Linked DNA regions of Homo sapiens: regions 2 and 3 are each linked to region 1. Evidence: fine-mapped expression QTL. A gene starts in region 1. Each other region holds a variant in brackets. All regions are shown on one strand. Distances are from middle to middle. Region 1 holds the start of LGALSL (galectin like). Region 2 overlaps LGALSL-DT (LGALSL divergent transcript). Region 3 has its middle 76 kb from the start of UGP2.

Evidence for each region. PIP is the estimated chance that this variant, and not a neighbour inherited with it, causes the effect. A credible set is the group of variants that fine-mapping cannot tell apart.
Region 2: its variant is the best candidate, but not a certain one, in a credible set for the expression of LGALSL in skeletal muscle (FUSION, PIP 0.58).
Region 3: its variant is the best candidate, but not a certain one, in a credible set for the expression of LGALSL in whole blood (INTERVAL, PIP 0.52).

What each region holds. Positions count from the first base shown.
Region 1 is chr2:64,451,726-64,457,605 of GRCh38, forward strand. LGALSL (galectin like) reads left to right here and starts at 2,437. Exons shown (of 5, transcript NM_014181.3): 1 at 2,437-2,856; 2 at 3,619-3,690; 3 at 3,864-3,952; 4 at 4,563-4,740. The coding sequence starts at 2,821. LGALSL-DT (LGALSL divergent transcript) reads right to left here and starts at 3,153. Exons shown (of 3, transcript XR_002959392.2): 1 at 2,800-3,153. RefSeq lists silencers at 2,194-2,613, 2,624-2,693, 2,784-3,083.
Region 2 is chr2:64,428,780-64,434,659 of GRCh38, forward strand. All of the region lies in intron 1 of LGALSL-DT (LGALSL divergent transcript), which reads right to left. Among named protein-coding and RNA genes, the nearest start is that of LGALSL, 22 kb to the right of the region's middle. The variant C/CT (reference allele first, on the strand shown) is at 2,455.
Region 3 is chr2:63,763,138-63,769,017 of GRCh38, forward strand. It overlaps a transcript of WDPCP not described here. Among named protein-coding and RNA genes, the nearest start is that of UGP2, 76 kb to the right of the region's middle. RefSeq lists an enhancer at 2,223-3,038. The variant G/T (reference allele first, on the strand shown) is at 2,270.

The DNA.
Region 1 (5,880 bases):
GTCCCTCCTTTGCTCAGAAACTTTTAATATCTTCCTATTTCCCCATGTAAAAGCCAATCCTCAACCACAGTGTAGAAGGGCTATCCATTTCTAGCTACACATCTCCTCAGTCACTGCCCCCAGCCCCAGTACTTGGGGACTTTGCCCTTGCAGTTCCCTGTGCCAGCAAACTCTTCCTCCAGATGTCCACATGACTCACCCCCCTCCTTCAGGGGTCTTCTCAAATGTCACTTTACCAGAGGTGGCTTCCCTGACCATCCTGTATAAATAGCATCACCCTACCTCCTATCTCTCTCTCTACTGGCTTTTTAATTATTTTTATTATTATTGAGACAGGTTCTCACTCTGTCACCCAAGCTGCAGTAGAGTGGTGAGATCACAGCTCACTGCAGCCTTGACCTCCTGGCTTCAAGTGATCCTCCCACCTCAGCCTCCCAAGTAGCTGGGACTACAGGTGCACACCACCACACCCAGCTAATTTTTTTTTTTATTTTTGTAGAGACAGAGTCTCTCTGTGTTGCCCAGGCCTGTCTCAAACTCTTGGCCTCAAGTGATCCTCTTGCCTCAGCCTCCTATATTGCTGGGATTATAGGCATGAGCCACCGCACCTGGCCTTATTACTTTTTCCTAACACTTTTGTCACCCGACATATTTTGTTTATTGATTTCCTTTGCCCACTAGAATGTAAGCTCAGCAAAAAAGTAGCCTGCTGGATCCCCAGTGCCTGGTATACAGCAGGCACTCAGTATTTTGGTATAATAAGTGCTTACTATGTCCCCAATACTGTTTTAAGGAAGGTATTTACTTAATCTTCCCAATAACCTGAGATAGGCATTATTATCATCATTGTCATCTCTGAGTCACAGATGAAGAAACTAAGGCACAGAGAAGTTTAGTAATTTTTCCAAGATCACACAGCTAGTGAATAGTAGAGCCAGGATTTGAACGCGAGACACCGGCTCTTTAACCACCATCACATGTAGTGTCACCCTTATTGTGTCACTCAGTTAATGATAAAGAACTACTGCACTTTAATGCTTCTTCTCTATACCAGACTCTCAGAAATTGATACATACTAAAGTATGCTTTCAAATGTCAATCATTTCCTATAAGTGCCTAACATTTTAAAGTAATAAAGTGTGATTTTGAGCTAAGACTGGTAAACAAAGTGTGCTGCAGCCACAAGCGTACTGCGCTTTAGCCTCTATCTAGTTCAAGAACCACTTCCAGAGGATATGAGTGAGGCTTACAGGCGTGTGCAGGTAATTCTCCCTGCTCAACTGAGATTACCATCATTAGCTCTGGTCCATAAAGGGAAAACTAAGACACAAAAGCCACATTGATGTTCTAGGCCACACAGCCAATTGCAGTGACTAGAAGAAAGAAGCCTCCCCGGGCGGCGAAGGTTGCAGTGAGCTGAGATCGCGCCACTGCACTCCAGCCTGGGCCACAGAGGGAGACTCCGTCTCAATTTAAAAAAAAAAAAAAAAAAAAAAAAAGGAGCCTCTGAGGGGCCCTCTGGGACTGCAGTAGGTCACACATGCTCCCTGCTTATTAGCATAGAACGCCCCGGTGATTCATGCAATGGAATGTTTCAGCCAAGGATGTCACCTAATAGAGGATATGTTGATACAGCTTTATCTGAGAAGTTACATAATCGTCCTAGTGTGGAAATGCCATAAAGGAATTTCTGGCTTGAATAAAAGAGGTGTGTATCCCCTGGGAAGTACTCCACAAAGGGTATGAGGAGATTTTCAGTGAGAAGCTGACTACCCCAGACTGGGCAAGTGACTTGTTAAAAACAGGGCTCAATGGAGGCTCTCTGAGGACAGTGACTGCGCCCACTTTGATTTGGTAAGGCTTTGACTCCTGCTCGAGAGAGTCCAGGGACCCCTAGACCTGCCTGTCCTTCCACAGGGAAGAGCGACCTTTCTGTATCTAGCCTCCTGGGATAGAAAGGTCCCTACCTTGAGTCCTCTCTGCTTCGTTCTTTCAGGTCACACATTTATTTCTGCAAGCCTTCAGACCTTCCATTCTCTTTCTGCCCTAGAGAGCAGAATGAATCCTTCCCCCGATTTTGTTGGAATTCTCTGAAAGAAATCCTGCCAAGTCTCCCACTCTGGAATACCACCCCCAGCACCCAATCTTCCCTCGACCTCGCCTCCCATCGCCCCACCAGCGCCCAGGACGTGGCAGGAGGAAGGAGGCTGGAGGGAGGGGCGCGGGTGGCACGAGCACCTGTCACCTGACCGGCTCGGGCCCTCACTTCTCCAGCCCCGGCCCTGCCCACCCTCTGGCCGGTGAGAGCCGACAGGGCCCCCGCCCTCCCGGACCCGGACAGGCCCGTCCCTCCCGCCCCGGCCTCCGCCACCGTCCAATGGCCGAGGGGCAGGGCCCGCTGAGCAAGCCGCGGCAGCCCCGCCGGGTCCCCGCCCTGTTCCCGGTTCCCGAGCCGGGCCCCGGAGGCCTTTAAATGCTGCCCAGGGCCGACGCGGCACGGCCCTCGCCACTTTTCTTGGTCGGGCAGCGGCAGCGGCAGCGGCAGCAAGCAGCCCCGTCGGCCCGGGTCCGGGGCCGTTCTGGGCCGCGGCAAGCACCTTCGCCCTCCCAGCTCGCGCTGCCTCCCTCCCCTCCCCTCCTCCCAGGCTCTGCCTGCCAGGTCGGCGCCGGGCCCCGGGCGCGCGCGCGCGCGCCCCCTCGTGTGTGCGCGCGCCCGCCGCCAGCTCGGACCCGCGCCCCCGCCCCCGCCCCGCGCAGGACAGCCCCGGGATCCCCGCCCGCGCGCCGCGTCCCACGTACCCCGCCGCGCCGGGCAAGAAGATGGCGGGATCAGTGGCCGACAGCGATGCCGTGGTGGTGAGTGTGGCAGGGCGCGCGCGAGGCGCCCCTCCCCGCCGTCCCGCACTCCGCCGCCGCCTGCTCCAGCAGTGCTGGGGTGCTGAGCAGCCGCAGGCCCGGCCGGCGCCCGGCGCGTGGGAAGGCGCCCGGTACCTGTTAGCAGCCGCTGGCTGCGCGCGGCCGGTGTTAGGGGCTGGAGAGGCTCCCGGGCTGCGGGGCTCTGGGCTGGGGAGGGAGTTTGGGGAGGATGGCGGGTAGGGACGCCCGACAGCCCCCTCTGTGCCGTGCAACCGCCAGCCAGGTGTGCGCGTGGGTGAGTGTGTCCGGGGCGCGCGCCCCGCCACCGCCCCCGACGTACCGGGGATTCCCCCTTGGAAATGGGTCGGCGCCCGGGGCTCCCGAGAGAAGTTGAGCACGGCCGCTGCACTTCAGTCACGTCCCGAAGGACAGGCCTGGCCCACCGCGCTTCCAGAAGCGTTTACGGTTGGAGAGGGGCCTGCCCTCCTCCGGCGTGGGGCTCTGGCTCTTCGGTGGACCTCGACCTTGATTTTGATCTGGATCTGAAGGGTCTGCGGATCTTCAGAGGCTTAACTACCGGGTGGAAAGGATGGGTTTTGTTCGGGGGTGATGAGATTATCTAAGAGACGGTGAAGAGGCATCATCTGCAGACACTGTGTGCATGTGGAAGGCTGCTGGATTCCACCACATCTGTGTGGGTTCTTCCTCCAGCCCCCCAAAAAAGAGCCCATGGAAAGCCAATCTGTGTACTTCTATTTTTAGAAACTAGATGATGGCCATTTAAACAACTCTTTGAGCTCTCCAGTTCAAGCGGACGTGTACTTCCCACGACTGGTAAATGATTTTGCTCTGTGTCTCTGCCTGTACCTTCCTCCTTTCTCATTGCTTTTTAAAATTTTATTCATTTGTTTATTGCATTTTCCAGTGGGTCAGGCCTTCAGGGTCTGAGGTCTTGGCTTTTCCCTAACAGGCTGTAAAATTCATTTTTCTTCTCCCACCCTTTTCAGATAGTTCCATTTTGTGGGCACATTAAAGGTGGCATGAGACCAGGCAAGAAGGTGTTAGTGATGGGCATCGTAGACCTCAACCCAGAGAGGTAAGGCAGAGTCTTTGTCAGGACAGAACTATCAGGCTGTGGCTGAGCCCTGCCCACTTCTGTTGTGGTTTAGCACTCCTCTTCCTCTCCTTGTGGACAGTGTTGCTAGTTGCCAGTGCCAAGAAAGTACCATGTTCCCATGAAACGAATATGTATGAATCCCAGCCATCATTTCTCCAGACAGCTATTTATATCAGAGATTATAAATATAGGCCCACATTTTCTCTTTGACCCTTAGGGAGGCCAGAGGATTTTTTTTTTTTTTTTTAATGGTTTTGAAACATGGTGCCAGGAGCAAGAACTATCAAGATGAATAAGAACCCAACTTAACATTATTTCCCCTGGTCAATTTCTGTGGCTGTTTTTGAGAATTCCGAAGTGGAATTCTCTAATTTTAGTCATTTTCAACACCAAAGTTTTCACCAGAGCTTGCTTTAGGTAACAAAATAAGCTGGTTTGACTTACTTCTCCATAATCTAACCTCTCTTGAAGAGTAGTGGCCTCTTAAAAATGGACAAACCCAGAGGAGGAAGAAGAAATATAAGCACTTGGGTCATTTTGAAATGTTTTTATATCCAACCCTTAATCAGTGGGATGATTTTCTTTTCAGCTTTGCAATCAGCTTGACCTGTGGGGACTCAGAAGACCCTCCTGCCGATGTGGCAATCGAACTCAAAGCTGTGTTCACAGATCGGCAGCTACTCAGAAATTCTTGTATATCTGGGGAGAGGGGTGAAGAACAGTCAGCAATCCCTTACTTTCCATTCATTCCAGACCAGCCATTCAGGGTGAGTACCTCGAGTGCCTCGGCTCCAGCCACTGGCAGGCTGATAATGTTCGACTTACCTAGTGTGTGCCAAGAACACTTGAAGCAGCCAGAATTTCTGCATGTCCAGGAAATTTGTCACCCAATGGTGAAAAAAAAAGATCAAAAGAGCTCTGTTTGCTGATATAAATTAACACTTGCCATAGTATCTTCTTAGTTCTATTCAGGTCATACATTTAAATAGACCCATATTTACATGTCCAAATTGTTAAGAATAAGTAACTTTTCTATGTAGTACCCAACATATAGTAGATACCTACCCCCAAATATCTGATTGATTAATCAATACTAAGTACCCACTTATTAAATATTAATATTAATAAGGTTGAGAGCTAATAAGTAGCTCTTTTATTTGTATGACATTTTAAAGAATATGATGATGATCATTTCATTTTCTCTTGTTCCCTTTGCTAATGAGGCCATGTTCGTGTCCTTGTTTCCCCCTCTGGATTAATTAGCCTCAGTCTATTTCATGGTTACAGGCTGTGTGGCTGACAAATTCCTTCCCTTGGGGCTGGATGAATAAAGATTTGCTCCCCACTATCTTCTGGGCAGGAAGCACAATCCAAACTTTTCATCCAATCAAGCAGCATTAGCAGCCCCTTCCTCTATGAAAGGCAATGCCAAATAAGAGATGCAGGTAGTGGCACAGTGGCTTGTGCCTATAATCCCACCACTTTGGGAGGCTGAGGCAAGAGGATTGCTTGAGCAAAGGAGTTCAAGACCAGCCTAGGAAACACAGCAAAAACCCTGCCTTTAAAAAAAAAAAAATTAGCCTGCCATGGTGTCACACACCTGTAGTCCTAGCTACTTGGGAGGCTGAGACGGGAGGATTGCTTGAGCCCAGGAATTCAAGGCTGCAGTGAGCTATGTGTGCATCACTGCACTCCAGCCTGGGTGACAGAGCAAGGCTCTGTCAAAAAAAAAAAAAATAAAGGGAAATGCAAGTAGTAATGGTGTTAAAAAGGGGTCAGACCTAGTGATGAATTGTCATTACACCTTAACATTACATCACAATAATGACAACTCAGTTAAAAGCTCCATGTTACATGTGAGCCCAATAAAACACAACTACACTTAACTGGTTACCCTTCATCTAGAA
Region 2 (5,880 bases), 23 kb before region 1:
CATTAAATATAATTGCAATAGAATTATTTTGGTAGATGTTCTTTATCGTGTTGAAAAAGTTCCCCTTTATTTATATTTTTGGGGTTTTCTTAACCATTAAAAGATGTTAAATGCTCTCAAATACTGTTTCCGCAGCAATTGATATAATCATGTGATTTTTTATTTCTGTCTGTTAATATGATATATTAAACTGATTTTTGGATATTGAACCACGCTTACATCCCTGGAATAATCCCCATTTGGTCATGATGTGTAACCATTTTTATGTTGCTGAATTCTATTTGCCAGTTTTTAAGGGATTTTTGTATCTATCACAGGAGACATTGTTCTGTAGTTTTTTTTTTTTCACTGTTTTGTCTTGTTTGGGTATATGGTAAGAGTAACTTCATAAAATTAATGGAGATATATTTCCTCCTTTTGCATATTCTGGGAGAGATTGTACAGAATTTGTATTAATTCTTCTTTAAACATCTGGTGGAATTCTGTGATGAAAACGTCTGGGACTGGAGATTTCTTTGGGGAGAATTTTAAACATTTCTAATTTAATGTCCTTAAAGTTATAGGGCTATTTAAATGATCTATTTCATATTGAGTGAGTTATAGTTTTTTTTCAAAGTGTCAGTCCGTTTCACTTCAGTTGTCAAATTTATATATGTAGAGTTGTTCATAGTATTCCCTTATTATCCTTTTGATGCCTTCAGGGTCTTCCCTGAGGTCTTCAGAGATATGCCATTTTATTCCTGATATTGATAATATGTGCCTTCTCTCTTTTTTCTTTGTAAGTCTTGATAGAGGCTTGTCAATCTGATTGATTCCTTTAAAGAAACAGCTTTTTGTTTCATTGATTTTCTCTATTGCCTTTCTGTTTTTGTTTTTATTAATTTCTGCTCTTATCTTTACTAGTTCATTTCTTTGTCTTGTTTTGGGTTTATTCTGCTCCTCTTTTTTTAAGTTTGGTCATGGGAGCTTAGATTATGTATTTGAGACTTTTCCTCTTTCTAATGTATGCATTAAATTTCCCTCTCAGCATTTCTCTAGCTATGTCCCACAAATTTTGACATGTTGTATTTTCATCTTCATGTAGTTCAATGTATTCTTGTTTCCCCTTGAGACTTCCTCTTTGACCCATGGATTCTTTAGAAGGGCTCTTTCATCTCCAAGTTTAACAGAAATGTTATTTCCAAAATAACAGAAAGTTTTCCTTTCTGTTATTTGTTTTTAATTTTATTCCATTGTGTTCAGACAACACACTGTATGATTTACTTATTTTAAATTGTTGAGGTTTGTTTTATGGCCCAGGATATGATCTATATTGGCATATGATCCACATGCACTTGAAAGGAATGAATTTTCAGCTGCGTTTGGGTGAAGTGTTCTTCAAATGTTGACTAAATTCTGTTAGTTGATTGTACTGTTGATTTTTTTTTTTTTTTTTTTTTGAGACTGAGTCTCACTCTGTCACCAGGCTGAAGCGCAATGGCACAATCTTGGCTCACTGCAACCTCTGCCTCCTGGGTTTAAGTGATCCTCCTGCCTCAGCCTTCTGAGTAGCTGGGACTACAGGCATGCACTACCACACCCAGCTAATTTTTTGTATTTTTAGTGGAAACGGTTTCATCATGTTGGCCAAGCTGGTCTCGAACTCCTGACCTCGTGATCCACCCGCCTCAGCCTCCCAAAGTGCTGGGATTACAGCATAAGCCACCGTGCCCAGCCTTGTTGAGTTCTTTTACATCCTTGCTGATTTACTCTCTGGTAGTTGTATCAATTGTTGAAATAAAGATATTGAAGTCTCCAACTATAATTGTGGATTTGTCTATTTCTCTGTTCAGTTCTATCAGTTTTTGTTTCACATATTTTTCAGCTCTGTTGTTTGTTGCATACACATTTAGGATGCTATGTCTTCTTGGTGGATTGACTCTTTTGTTATTATCAATATTCCCTGTCTCTGGTAATTTTCTTTCTTCTGAAGAGTACTGTATTTGATATTAATATAGTTAATCCTTCTTTTCTTTATTTAATATTTACGTGATTTTTTTTTCATCCTTTCAGGTTCACCCTATATCATTTTATTCGAAGTAAGTTTCTTCTAGACAGCATATAGTTGGGTCATGTTTTTAATTCACTCTGGCAATCTCTGCCTTTTAATTAGTGTATTTAGAAAACTTACATTTAATGTAATTATGGATGTTTTAGGGTTTATGTCTGCCATTTTATTTTTTCTCTCTGTTTTTCATCTCTCTGTTTTTTCCCCTCCCTTCTTTTGGCTTACTTGAATATTCTTTAGAATTCTATTTTGATTTATCTATAGTATTTTTAGTATATCTCTTTATATAGCTTTTATGGTGGTTGCTCTAAGTGTTACATCATATACATATAACTTATTATAGTCTACTAGTATCATAATTTTAATAGTTCAAATAAAGGATAAAAACTTTACCTTCCTCTAGATTT[C/CT]TTTTTTTTTTTTCTTTTTTGAGATGGAGTTTTGCTCTTGTCACCCAGGCTGGAGTAAAATAGCACGATCTTGGCTCACTGCAACCTCCACCTCCCAGGTTCAAGCGATTCTCCTGCCTCAGCCTCCCAAGTAGCTGGGATTACAGGCATGTGCTACCACACCCGGCTAATTTTTGTATTATTAGTAGAGACGGGGTTTCACCATGTTGGCCAGGCTGGTCTCAAACTCCTGACCTCAAATGATCTGCCCACCTTGGCCTCCCAAAGTGCTGGGATTACAGGTGTGAGCCACCATGCTTGGTCTAGATTTCTTTACTCTCCCACATTTACAATATGATCATCTTAAATATTCATACATTTTAGAACCATATTATACCGTGTTATTATTTTTGCTTCAACCATACAATGTAATTTGGAAAACTCAAGATGAGAAGGAAAGCCTATTATATTTACCCATATGTTTGTTTATAGCGTTCTTCCTTCTTTCCTTCCTGATATTACAAGTTTCCTTCTTTTGTTGTTTCCTCTCTATTTAAAAAACTTTCTTTAGCCATTTTTTTATGGTAGGTTTGCTGGTGACAAATTCTCTTAATTTTCATTCATCTGAGAATATCTTGATTTTCATTTCACTCCCGAAAGGTAGTTTTGCAAGATGCTGGGTGGATGGTTCTTTTCTTTCAGCACTTGAAAAATGTTGTACCACTTCCTTCTGGTTCTCCTGATTTCTGACCAGAAATCTGCTGTCATTTTAACTGCTTTCTCCTCTAGGTAAAATGTCCATTTTCTCAGCCTTCAAGATTTTTTCATTGTCTTTAGTTTTCAGAAGCTTAATTATAATTGTGAGTTGGTGTGAATTTCTTCAGATATATTCTGTTTGGGGTTCACTCAGCTTCTTGAATCTGTAGGATTATATCTCTTGCCAAATTCAGAAAGTTTTCAGCCATTATTTTTTAAAGTACATTTTTAGCTCTGTCCTCGTCTTATCTCCTTCCGGGGCTCTGATGACACAAATGTTAAAGCTCTTGTTTTAGTCCCACAGGCCTCTGAGACTGTTTCTTTTTCTTCCAGCATATTTTTCTCTCAGTTTTTCAAACAGTAATTTCTGTTATTCTTTCTTCTACCTCACTGATTATTTCTTCTATCTCCTCCATTCTGCTGTCTCCTTCATTCTGCTTTTCACTAAGTTTCTTGTTTTCATTCTGTATTATTCAGTTCATTTAGTTCTTCTTTGTATGCTTCTATTTCTTCTATTTCTTTCCTGTGACTTTCTGTTTCTTTGCTGAGGTTTTCAACTTTTTCATTTGTTTCAAGTGTGTGCATGATTGCTATTGCTGCTTTTATCATGGCTGCTTAAAATTTGTCAGATAATTCTAACATCACTGTCATCTCATTGTTGGGTTCTATGAATTGCCTTTTTCATTCAGTTTGAGAGCTTTCTGGTTCTTGGTATGATAAGTGGTCCTGGATATGTTCATATTATGAGACTGGATCTTAACTAAACTTGGTTCTACTGACTTTTTCTGATACAGTTCTGGTAGGTGAAAGAGAGGAATGCTGCCTTATTCTTCCTAGGTGGGGGTAGAAGTCCTGGTTCCCCACTTAGCTAACAAATAGTTGAGCATGGAGGGCATCTTTATTGCTGCTGGGCAGGGTGGGAATTCTAGCTCCTCACATGGCCATTAGACACAGTGGTGGAGATGGCCCATTGCTGCTGAGTGATGGTGAAAGTCCTTACCATTCACTAGGCCCCCTCTGATACCATCCCAGCAAAGAGGGGGAGAGGTACCTCATTACTGCCAGGTGGGGATAGAAGTGTTTAATCAAGGTCACAAAGTTAGTGAGTCATGAAGTTGGAATTCAGGCCCAGGCATCTTAGTCTCCAAAGCCCAAGGTATTAACTACACCATCAAAATGCTGTGAGCTGTGATTATAACTACATACAAATATTTGTATATATATATCCAAAGACTGGAGAGTTATAGAGAGATGGGAAAAGTAATTCAACTAGAGTGATGAAATATGACCACCTTTTTTTTTATTTTTTTGAGACGGAGTTTCACTCTGTTATCAGGCTGGAGTGCAGTGGCATGATCTCGGCTCACTGCAACCTCTGCCTGCCAGGTTCAAGCGATTCTCCTGCCTCAGCCTCTTGAGTAGCTAGGACTACAGGTGTGTGCCACCATGCCCGGCTAATTTTTGTATTTTTAGTAGAGACAGGGTTCACCATGTTGGCCAGGATGGTCTTGATCCCTTGACCTCGTGATCTGCCTGCCTTGGCCTCCCAAAGTGCTGGGATGACAGGTGTGAGCCACCGCGCCCGGCCATCTCGTCCCTTCTTAACATTCCTTGACTGCTCCCATTTGCTTCTTCTTTTGCTTTCTTACTGACTTCTGAGATTTGAAATGCTACTTTCTTATTTGCTTCTGAGATTCTGGCGTAGTAAAACTTCCTTCAAGCAAGGAATAAATTCTACTATCCACATACCTGAATGGGATCAAATAATGGCATTACATACTGTTTTGTTTCTATTTGAAAGTTAAGTTATTTAAATTCAATAGTTTTCAATAACATTCAAAAGCTGAATGAAGTGAGACCTCTGATTAACAATCTTGCATCTATTTGTAAAGTCTCATATCATCAGCCACTCTAAAGTATCTTAATGCCAGAATATTTGTGCTGAATATTTTCCATGTTTTTTTCCAGATCCACTTACCTTTCTTTTTCATTCCACTTAGGGCTTCAGGTGGCTGACCTTTGTGGATTGCATTAACTGCCTTCTGGCAGTTGGGCTCAACTAATTGGATGCCATGCCAAGACACAAGAGGGTGAGTGGAAATCATCAAGGCCAGGATACTCATTTCCTTCCTTCTCTACTAGGTCATCATGCGTTAACTGTCTCCCATTCAAAGGCCACAGCTCCTGTCTATCAGCCCTTTCATACAACTATCTGTCTGAGTCCATTACCTTGCGTCCTCCTATGACCTATTCAGGCCTAGAAGTGATACCATTGTTGCCAACCCTGGAATACTGCACCATTCCTTGTTAGTTTTCCTTAACATGACCACACCTTTGTAAACGCTCCCTTTGTTGAACACGCCTCACCATGTTCAAGACTAACATCTTAACTGACAGAATATCCTATCCAATTCTTCCATTTTCTTTCAACACTCCAAGGGCAACTCCCATAAGTCTTTCATTTTTCAAAGTAAACAAATGTTTCATCAACAAGTTAACCTTTGTACTAATATCAATAATACTCTGAGATGCAATCAGTAAAACAAATATTCAATATTTAGCCTAAACTGTTATTTTAAAAAACAACACACAAATTAAGCAACAATGAACTTAGTACATTGCCAGTCAGTTCCCATTATACTGGCAAAAACATAAAAAATGACATTACTAGTTGGTGAGGAGATGGTAAAG
Region 3 (5,880 bases), 690 kb before region 1:
GGGGTATGCCTTATTGTTCTCAGTATTCCTAGCACCTAATACCCTGACTGACACACAGAAAGTACAAAAAGGTATTTGTTGATGGTCCGGGCACGGTGGCTCATGCCTGTGATCCCAGCACTTTGGGAGGCTGAGGAGGGTGGATCACTTGAGGCTAGGAGTTTGAGACCAGCCTGGCCGATATAGTGAAACCCCATCTCTACTAAAAATACAAAAAATTAGCTGGGCATGGTGGCACACCTGTAATTCCAGCTACTCAGGAGGCTGAGGCAGAGAATCACCTGAACCTGAAAGGCAGAGGTTGCAGTGAGCCGAGATTGCGCCACTGCATTCCACCCTGGGCAACAGAACAAGACTTTGTCTCAAAAAAAAAAAAAAAAAAAATTGTTGATGGAATAAGTGAATTCATTTGCAGTAAGAATAACATAACTCATGAAATGCATCCAAAATACACATGTTGTTAATTTAGCATTACTAAAACTTCATGAAACCAAAATTCCTCTCATATATTCGGAAATGTAGCACAAAAAAGTGTTTTGATTAGTGAAATTATGTAGAAAAATATACCTAAAAAGGATATATTCAGAGATAGTCAGGAGTTATTTTCATTTTCTTCCATTATGGCTATTTATTTGTGCCAAAAAATTGCTGTTAGAAGTTGTTTTTAAAAATAGAATCTTTAAGTGGTACATTAAATCCAGCTGGCTTCAAACGGTACAGGGTGGTGGTGTTGGGGGGAGGGTCACAGATGGCCAGATCTCTAGGGAATTCTATGACCTCAGTGATGACTGACTAAAATTCCTGGACTTTTCCTGGACTTTTCTTGTGAGAGGAATTCTACAGTTGATAATTATTGATAATTATCAATTCTTGTTCCCTGATAGTTATTGTTATTACTTTTTATTGAGGTAAAATTCACATAAGATAAAGTTATTTTGAAGTGTGCAATTCAGTGACTTTGAGTACATTCACAATATTATACAACTATCACTTCTCTCTAGTTTCAAAACACTTTCATCACCCCAAAAGAAAACCTCATACCCATTAAGCAGTCACCCTGAGAATTATTTAATCTCTGGCTCCACATAATAAGCACCAATCCTATCAGCTCTGTAATAGAAAAATAACAGGAAAAGTATTTTCCTCCAAAAAGTATAAAAATTGTAACTTTAATAATAGGGTTTGCAAGGCCAGTCAAGGGCTAGCCTGTGATCCTTTGAGTGATGCCGTGGTGACCTCTGATGCTGAACATATGGGCATGGTCTGACCTCCAGATGGGCAGCAGGTGTATCTCTGCATAGGCCTCTGAGAAAGCTACCTGGGATGATCCTGGAAGACCAAAATGTCAACTGAGTTTTTAAGTGTATTTAAGGTTTTCAGACTTAAATGATTTTTGAATTGTCAAACACCACGCAAAGAGTAGATATGGTAAGTGATTAAAAAAGCACATTAAATATAAATGGATTGAAATGTGAAAAAAGCCACAAACACTACACACTGACAGCCTTTAGGAAATGCCTCTTTACAACCTTGACTTTCTTGATGAGGAATTTGTGCTGGTAAAGGGGCTTTCGTTTATTTAGGGGATGGACCGAGAGGCTTCCTGAGGAGAAAATCTATTTTAAGGCAAGACCATGAAGGAGGAGTTTGGGCTGGAAACAAAGGCTAAGTCACCAAAGGGGTGTGACCTTTCTGATTCCAGGGTTATATTGTCATTCAGATTACTTTCCTAGCCCAGATTCTCTTTGAGGTCATGTTTGGATGGGGTAGAGTAGGAACATGGTAAATAAAAAATTGAAAATGGAAAGAGCTGCTTATCTAAGAGGGAGTCCTAAACTAGGCTAAGGTAGCTTTTCCACTCAACAAAGATGTGTGGAAAGCACTATGTGCTGGGCATTTGTTAAACATGGAAGATACAATGGTAAACAGGACAGATATACTCCCTGTCTCCAAGAATTTTACAGTCTAAAGGTAGATATTTAAAATAGGACTACATAAATATTGACTACAATAAAGACTACAGAGGAATAGTTCACTAGGCAACGGCAGTGTTTAATGGCAGAACTCTAACCCAGTCTGGAAAGACAGGGAAGACTTTCCTGAGGAGACATTTCAGCTGAGATCTGAACAATAAAGGGTAGGGAAGGCAAGAGGGTGGGGGCAGTAGGCACAGTGTGTGTAAATGTTTTGAGGTGGGAGGAGCTGGAGTTTGAGGCCAGCGGGCTTAAGCATAGGGGCCAGTGAGAAAAGCAGCAGAACAGTTTATGAA[G/T]GAGCTGGCTACTTCCCTGCACTTGTGGACTGTTCTGCCAGCAAGCAAACCAGCCACAGGCAGGGCAGAGAGACCTTCACTGTTGTAAGGTTGTGGGGTATGAATTGAACTGGGGCCTTGAGGGGCTTGGTAAATGGATTAGGCAGGTGTCTGGTTACCCCTCTAGCTAGATGTACTAGGCCTTTTGTGTGGCCAGGTCACATGCCTCTGGCTTCTATGCAACATTGTCCCAAAGACATGGATTCAATCCCTTCCAGAAACTCCAAAATTATCCTGGACTCTGGATCAAGTCTCAGACCAGGAACCACAGCTAAGGCATGTGGTACTGACAGGGTTGGCCTACTGCCTGGTTAAAAATTTTGGCTCAATTCGGGGGCACATGTGTTTGTTCATCTGCATGGGAAACCCCTCATGACACTGACTCTTCTATTGTAGGAAGGATGCAGCCATGCTTGTGCTTTACCTAGCAGAAACATTTTACCAGGAATGAGCTGCGTGAAGAGCCATACATCTCTCAGTCACATCAGGGCCAGGCTTCCTATCAGATATTTGGGCAGAACTTCTATGAGTAGGGATAGCACCTCCAACCATCCATAGCTCCAGGGAGCCTCAAAAGTTGTCCATCTTGTTTAGAGCACTAGCACCTAGCACATGCACCTAGGTGCATTTTAGGAAATCAAGAAATATCACTGTAATGGATGAGTGGAGGTAGAGCACAGAGCAGGCAGTTCTGCTAAAGCAGTTCTCAGCTAACCCAAAAGATTAGCATTCTTTGCTTGCAGAGATGTGAAAAGCCAGCAGCTAAATCAGTGAGTCTCATCCCTCCCTGAACATATACATTACATACATATAAGTTTTATTTAAGGTATGTTTTTAAAATATATTTATAAAGAAATTAGGCTGGAAGTAAATATGCCCAAATATTAAATTTTTTTTTTTTTTAGACAGGATCTTGTGTTGTCTCCCAGGCTGGAGTGCAGTGGCATGATCATAACTTACTGAAGCCTTGAATTCCTGGGTTCAAACGATTCTTCCACCTCAGCCTTCCATTTAGCTGGGACTATAGGCGTGTACTACCATGCCTAGCCAATATTAATTTTTTGACAATAGGATTATGTATAGTTATCTTACTCTATGGATATACTTAATCTATGGATTTCTGTATGTTACTTAAAAAAAAAAAGCTTTACTGAAGTATAGCTGGCATATAATAAAATGCATATGTTTAAAGTCTCACTATGAAAAATTTTAACACATTAATACACCTGTGAAAACATCACCACAATCAAGACAGTGAATATATGCATCACTCTCAAAAGACTCTTCTTATCAAAATACACAGACATAAAATTTACCATCTTAACAATTTTAAGTATACAGTTCAGTGTTATTAAATACATTCATAAAATTATGCACCATCACCACCATATAACTCCATAACTCTTTTCATTTTGTAAAACTGAAACTCCATAGCCATTAAACAATAACTCCCATTCCCTTCTATCCCGAGCCCATGGAAACCACTATTCTACTTTCTGTCTATGATTTTGACTATTCTAAGTTCATCTTGTCCTTTTTTAATGCCACCTTCTTGCCCCACCCTCACCCCATCCCCAGACAACCACTGATTTGTTTTATATCACTATAGATTAGTTTTTGTTCCTTAGAATTTCATACAAATGGAGTTATAATGTACACTTTCTGTCAAGTCTGGCTTCTTTCATACAACAGAATTACTTTGAGATTCCTCCATGTTGTTGTTTGTATCAATAATTTATTCCTTTTTATTACTGAGTAATAGTGCATTGTATATATACTTAATTTGCTTATTCATTCATTGTACATGGACATTTGGGTTGTTTCTAGTTTTGAGCTATTACAAATAAAGCTGCTGTGAATATTCATGTATAAGTCTTTGTGTGGGTGTAAGTTTTCATTTATCTGAGGCAAATACCTAGGAGTTGAATGGGTCATTTGGTGGATGTATGGCTTAACTTTTTAAAAAGCTGCTAAGCCATTTTCCAAAACAACGATAACATTTTACATTTTCATCAGAATTGTATGAGAGTTCCTGTTGTTCCATAACCTCTCCAAAACTTAGTATGATTAGTCTTTTTAATTTTAGACATTCTAGTGGGTATAGGTATATCATTGTGGTTTTAATTTGCATTCTGTAATGATCAATGATGATGAACATCTTTTTATGTGCTTATTTGCCATCTGAATATCTTCTTTGACAAAAAGTCTGTTCAAATATCTTATCTGTAGGTTTATTTGTGTATGTGTGTTCTTATTGTTGAGTTTCAAGAATTCTTTATGTATTCTAGATAGAAGTCCTTTATTTGATATGTGATATGCAAATATTTTGTCCTGTCTGTGTGGCTTTTCACTCTCTTTGGTGTCTTTCTATCAGCAAAATGTCTCAATTTTGATAGAGTTTAATTTATCAAAATTTTTAAATGGATCATCTCTTTCATATGGTATCTAAGGAAGCTTTGTTTAGCCCAAGGTTACCAAGATTTTCTCTTAATTTTTCCTTACAGAAGTTTTATAGTTTTAGTTAAGTTGAGGTTGATGCCTAGGAAAATAACAACAACAACCAAAAAGAACAAATTTAAAAACAACAAAAAATAAGTTTCATATTTTAGGTTTTATATTCAGGTCTATGATCAATTTTTAGTTGATTTTATTTATGGTAGAAGGTATGGACCAAAGTTCATTTATTTGCAAATAAATGTCCCATTGTTCTAGTACCTTTTGTTGAAAATGACTATGCTTTTTTCCTGAATTGACTTTGTACTTTTGTTAAAAATCAATGGACCATACATGTGTAGGCCTATTTCTGAAGTCTCTATTTTATACCATTGAACTATTTGACTATTTTTATGCCACTATCTTTAAGTCAGACAGTATAAGTGTGCCATTTTTGTTCCTTTTTTTTTTTTTTCCAAATTGTTTTGGCTATTCCAGGTCCTCTGCATTTTTATGAGTTTTAGAGTCAATCTGTCAACTTTTAAAAAATCTGCTGAAATTTTGATAGGGGTTGCATTGAATTTATAGATGAAATTGGGGATAATTGATGTCTTAAAAATATCAAGTCTTCAATCATTTGGGTATTGGTTACTCCAAGCCAATTCAATCAGAATCTCTGGGGACAAGACAAGCCATTGTATTTTCTAAGAAATTCCCCAGGTGCTTTTAATGTACAGCCAGAGTTGTGAACACTGATCTCTGGCATCTGTCTTGCAGGCAGCTCTGACTGCTTAATGCTCCCAAAGGAAATGAACTATATTGAATAACACAAGGCATAATTGAAGGAAATAGTGACACTGAGCTTAGAGAAAAACTTTCAAGGAGACATGGACTTGAAAGGCTATCATACAGGAGAGGAATTAGACTCTTGCAAACCCAACAGACAGAAACTTCAGGGAATCAGACATTATCTTAGCCCAAGGAGGTACTTTCAACAGTCAATGATGTCCTCAGAAACAATGGGCTTTCTAGGAGGGGAGATCTCTTTGGTCCTAGAGATTAGTGGGATTCATTCACTAAACATTCACCAGCTCCCTACAATGTACTGACAAGAAAGTTGCAGAGGCTTTTCAGTATCA